2 separate regions of the Homo sapiens genome follow, and region 1 is linked to region 2. The links come from fine-mapping of genetic effects on gene expression. A gene starts in region 2. The other region holds a variant in brackets. All regions are shown on one strand. Distances are from middle to middle.

Region 1 (2,794 bases), 28 kb before region 2:
GATGGGGCGAGGGAGAACAGGGCTAGCTGACGCCGCAGAACGGGGAAGGGGACAGGCAGCAGGCAGAATGGGAAGGGGCAGGGAGGAGCAGGGAAGGCTTTGTGAGAGCAGCCGGGGACCCGCCAGGTAGGGGCTGAGGGAGTGGCAAGGCTGAGGACCGGTTTCTGGCACAGGAGAGGTGGCAGAGGGTCCTGGAGCCCCTCGTGCTGGGACAGTGGTTTCCAAACTTCCGTAACAGTGCATACCTCTTTTTTTTTTTTTTGAGATAGGGTATTGCTCTGTCAACCAGGCTGGAGTGCAGTGGCACAATCATAGCTCACTACAGCCTCGACCTTCTGGGCTCAAGCGATCCTCCCGCCTCAGACTCCCAAGTAGCTGGAACTACAGGCACATGCCACCATGCCAAGCTAATTTTTTCTTTTCTTTTTTTTTTGAGACAGGGTCTCGCTGTGTCACCCAAGGTGGAGTGCAGTGGCGTGATCTTGGCTCACTGCAACCTCTGCCTCCCAGGTTCAAGCGATTCTCCCACCTCAGCCTCCCGAGTAGCTGGGACTACAGGTGCACGCCATCACACCTGACTAATTTTTGTGTTTTTTTTTTTTTTTTTTTTGGTAGAGACAGGATTTGCCATGTTGGCCAGGCTGGTCTCGAACTCCTGACCTCAGGTGATCTGCCTGCCTCGGCCTCTCAATGTACTGGGATTACAAGCATGAGCACCACTCCTGGCCTCATTTCTTATTTAATTTTTTTGTTGTTGTTGTAGAGACAGATTCTCGCTATGTTGCCCAGGCTGGTCTTGGACTTCTGGCCTCAACCGATCCACCCACCTTGGCCTCCCAAAGTGCTGGGATTACAGGCATGAGCCACTGAGCCCAGCCCCATTCTTCTTTTAAGATGTGATTTCAAGCATAACACCAGTATACCCAATATACAGGAGAAGAGGCTGTCTGATCAATGCTGGCTTTGGGGGCAAGAGTCCTTTCTGTTCGGCCTCTGCCTTCATCTTGTCTGAACAGAAAACCCTCAGATCTCTGGGGAACTCAGTGTGAAAACTTTGAATCCAGGCGGGGGCCCCCAAGAGGCGATGGCCATGAGGGCAGGGGGTGGGTGGGGAGGCTGCGTGGGCTCACCTGCTCCACGATTCCTTCCCCTTCCAGGGCCCGGCTGTAGTTCTCGTGGATGTACTGCTCCTTCCAGTCCTGTGAGAGGGTGGGGGGCACATCAGATCTGTGCCCCCCTCGCTCCCAGCCCCCAGGGGACCGCCCCCTCCCACTCAGTGTCCTGC[G/A]CTGGCAGCAGCCATCACGTTTGGTGTCTTCCTTAGCACAAGGCGGGGAACCTGTGTGCTCTGGGCGTGGGGTCCCCACTCACGACGGGGTTGTCGAAGATCTGCCAGAGGTCGGGGTGCAGGTGCTCCGTGTCGTATCTGGAAGTGGCCAGGAGCCGGCCAAATTCATGCTGATTGCTCAGATGGAGGAAGATGCCCTGTAGTGGGGTGGGGGTGTCCGTGATGCAGGCGATGCCTGGAGTCTGGGGGACTGCCCCCAGGCCAGACCGTGCACCCGCGCTCACCTTGTCTCGAAAGCTCTTACAGAAGGCCATGTCCGGGTCTGTGTCACTGCCCGAGAACACATCCCTCTGGGGCAGCTCCATCCGCAGGGTATCACCCCGGATCACATAGGCCTGGGAGATGTATGGTACATTCCACACACCCCTGGAGGCACCGACACCGCGGTCAGCTGGGAGGACAGCCCCCCAAATTCTGCCCAGCTCATCCCGGGAAGTCCTTCTTCCCTCAGGGTATCCCAGTCCCTGAACATAAGGCCCCTGCATGTCCCTTGTCAAGCACTGCTGGTCCCAACCACCCCACCTCCCAAAATGCGGTCAGTTCCTACCCCAAGCTGTGGCACTTCTTTTTTGTTTCTTGTTTTTGGTTTTTGAGACGGAGTCTTGCTCTGTCACCCAGGCTGGAATGCAGTGGTGTGATCTTGGCTCACTGCAACCTCCACCTCCCAGGTTCAAGCAATTCTCCCACCTTAGCCTCCCAAATAGCTGGGATTAGAGGTGCCAGCCACCATGCCCGGCTGATTTTTGTATTTTTGGTAGAGATGGGGTTTCACCATGTTGGCCAGGCTGGTCTCGAACTCCTGACCTCGAGTAATCCACCTGCCTCTGCCTTCCAAAGTGCTGGGATTACAGGCGTCAGCCACCGCGGCCGGCCCTTGTTTTTTATTTTCTTGAGAAAGGGTCTCCCTCTGTTTCCAGGCTGGAGTGCAGTGGTGGAAACATGGCTCACTGCAGCCTCAACCTCCCAAGTTCAAGTGATTCTCCCACCTCAGCCTCCGTAGTAGCTGGGACCACAGGCACGCACCACCGTGCCCAGCTAATATTTTAAGTTTTTTGTAGAGATAGGCTCTTGCTACGTTGCTCAGGCTGATCTTAAACTCCCAGGCTCAAGCAGTCCTCCTACCTCAGCCTCCCAAAGTGGTGGCATCAAAAGTGTGAGCCACTGCAGCCAGCCTCATGGCACCTCTGACTGGTGACCACTCCAAACCCCTGAGAGTAGGGGGCTTGGGTCTACCTGGGCCCCGGGTCGGAGGAGGCGGGGGGCTGCAGGCTGGCGGGACTCACACTCGCTTCCGCTGCACCAGCTCCACGTAGTCCTCGGAGCGGGCGTAGTACTCATCGGGGCTCAGGGCGCCCCAGAAGTTGGACCACAGCTTGCCGTGGCGGGACAGCATGGGGGCGATCACCTTCCTGCGGACAGGTGGGGGTGAGGGCTGGGCAGACGGGAGCA
Region 2 (2,781 bases):
CAGTGCCCCCCGACAGTGAGGCTGGGGAGTCTGTGGAGCCTGGAAGTTGATCAACCTCTAAGAATCCAAGATGGGGCCTCCTCCCCCTGCCCACCCCAGCAATCCCACCCCCAAAACATGCTCAACCGTACTGAGTGCCTATGTGTGTTAACATCACGCTAACATTCTGCACTTTCTCAGTCACCTGTGAACTGGGACTCTCACCCTAACCCTACAGGTGGGAGATGAAGCTGGTTTCATCATTTGCCCACAGCACAGGGCTGGGAAAGGGGGTCTGATTCTGGTGCCTGCACCTGTAACAGCTAAAAGCGCCACACTAGCGCAGGGGGCCACGTGTGGCAAGGTCTTCACTCCAGTTCTAGGCATGGGCCGCCCCCAGCACTCCTGGCTGCGGGAACTCAGACCCGCAGAGCTTAATTCAGGGCTCCCTGCATCCTCACGGAAGTACCCGCCCTCCCCTGGGGTCTCTGCAGCTTCCCCGCCGCCCTCTCTCCCTGGAGCGCTCCCCACCCCATACCAGAGAGGGCCAGCATGGACGGGAACTCCCAGCAGTTGTAGACGCCCAGGGAGTCGGTGGCACAGCTAAACCAGAGGTTCTCGAAGATGGTGTTGGTGGTGATGACGTTCCCGTGCACAGTGGACACTCGCCAGTAGCTGTTTGGCAGAGTCACCCCCAGCATCAGCAGCCCCACAGTTGCCATGAAGAAGCCAAAGGTTTCCACAGCCATCGACATGGTGGGATGCAGGACCCTGGGGGGCTGGTGCCCCAGAGAGGGGGAGGGGCAGAACCCCTAGGGAACTGGAAGGGGCTGCGGCTAAGGAGGGTTGTCCAGGCAGGCTGGGGTGGAATCAGCCTCAGCCTCTGCCTGCCTCTTCCTCGGGCTCAGGTCCGTCTCCACTTTCTGCCTCCCTCCTGCTCTGTGGGTCTCTCTGCTTCCTGGCAGGTCAGAGGAATGAGCTAAGCCTGCGCGCGGCAGCTGTTGACGAGATGGAGGGAATAACCGAAACGGGCCAAAAGTCCACCCCCTCCCCCCAGCCTCTGGGCTGCCCCGGGCTCCCCGCCCCACGAGGGTGGGGGGGGCAGACTTACCCTGGAGCCACTGACGGATACAGCCAAGGAGGGGCCCCCAAGGGAGGCACTGGGAACTGAGGGGAAGCGTCTGTCTCTGACTCAGCTTTCATTGGGGGCCAAAGAACGGAGTAAGAGGGACAAGGAGTGAAAAGATGACAGAGACAGACGTGAGAGCAATAAGGGACAGAGACGGAGAGAGAATGAACAGCAGCCTTCAGTGGTGAAGGACGGAGGAACCACGAGAACAATCTAAGATACTCAGACCAAGGGGTTGGGGCGTATGAGTCTCTTAAGGAAGATCAAGCTGGAATGAGGGGATGGGAGGGTAGGAGACCCACAGCTCTGGGCTCCATCCAGCCTGGAATGGAACTCGGCCCCACCATCCATTCACCAGGGAACTCAGGCGGGGAGTTTTAGTCCCCTGAGCTTCTGCTCTGTCAGTGACATACCCGACTGCTTACTGCAGGGGCTGTGGTGAGAACTGGGACCAGGGGCCGGGCGCAGTGGCTCTCGCCTGTAATCCTACCACTTTGGGAGGCTGGGCTGAGACGATTGCTTGAACTCAGGAGTTCAAGACCAGCCTGGGCAACACACTGAGACCTCGTTGGGACCAGGGAGTCAAGCCCCCCACACATAACCAGCGCTTGGCACCGGGAACTGTCCTGGATGTGAGTGTCACAGGGCTGAGGCCACCAGGGAGTCGCTCTCACCCAAAACTCAAATTTCCTCCTAAGTTGATCTTTGACTCAGCATCGAGCCTGGTCCTGCTGGCCAACAGCCTGGAGCGTGATCCTGTGGCTAAGCTCTGCAACCTGTTCCCAGTTATCAGGGACTGTCACCCACTCTATTCGTTAATGATGATGGATTAGCAGCCTCTGGTCCCCATCCCGAGCCAGTGCAGAGCACCTGTCCCAGAGCAGACACTCTCATCTCCTGCTCCGGTTCCCTAGGGCTCTGTCCCTGGGGGCCATCAGCGCTGGCTGCGCACCTCCCTGGCCCCACGGCCCTGCTGGGCTTCTCCGGCCTCCCCTCAGGTGTCTCCTCCCTACTCCTGTGCTGGCCTGGGCTGTGGAACGAGAGGTATGCGGTGAAGCAAAACAGGCCCATGCCGAGCCTGGCACGAGGGGGCGAAGCTGGCTAGGTGGGGCTGAGTCCTGACCTTCCAGCCCACAGGCGAGAGCTGGGGCTCCCTGGGCTCTGACCTCTCCCGGGACCCCCGCCTACTCCATGCCAGATGCAGGATTCCTTCCCCTACTGGGCTCCCCCTCCCCCAGAGGAGGAGGTAGGAGGAAGGGGAGGCCACAGGAAGACAAAGGGAGGGGAGGGTGGGGAGGAGGAAGCCAAGGGGGCCTGCTGTGGAAAACTCCACAGAAGTAGCTGAGTGGGTCAGAGGAGAATGCAGGCCTGAAGCCCGGCCTGGCCCCGAAGTTCTGCCCGCCCATGCTCAGGTCACTGCCTTCTCCCAGGACTCTGGGACCATGGAAAAGCCCCATGTCTCCGAGCTGCCCGGCACTCTCAAGGACATGGCTTCAGGAAAGGGAGGAAGGAAGGGTGTGGGCTCTGGGCTGCGGGGTGGACAAAGAACCCCGTGCCAACCTGGAGGGCAGGGGCAGGAGAGGACCAGGAGTGACGTCTCCGCCCCCTGTGCCCAGCGTTCAGAACCCACCCCTCCCCTCAACGCAGACACGGGGGTTCCCAAGCCACAGCCC

Evidence for each region. PIP is the estimated chance that this variant, and not a neighbour inherited with it, causes the effect.
Region 1: its variant is fine-mapped to the expression of CLDN15 in whole blood (TOPMed, PIP above 0.99).

The regions. Positions count from the first base shown.
Region 1 is chr7:101,208,963-101,211,756 of GRCh38, forward strand. It overlaps PLOD3 (procollagen-lysine,2-oxoglutarate 5-dioxygenase 3), which reads right to left. Exons shown (of 19, transcript NM_001084.5): 12 at 2,629-2,754; 13 at 1,570-1,711; 14 at 1,369-1,482; 15 at 1,131-1,199. Among named protein-coding and RNA genes, the nearest start is that of PLOD3, 7.2 kb to the right of the region's middle. The variant G/A (reference allele first, on the strand shown) is at 1,286.
Region 2 is chr7:101,236,848-101,239,628 of GRCh38, forward strand. CLDN15 (claudin 15) reads right to left here and starts at 955. Exons shown (of 5, transcript NM_014343.3): 1 at 518-955. The coding sequence starts at 734. FIS1 (fission, mitochondrial 1) reads right to left here. Exons shown (of 5, transcript NM_016068.3): 5 at 2,625-2,781.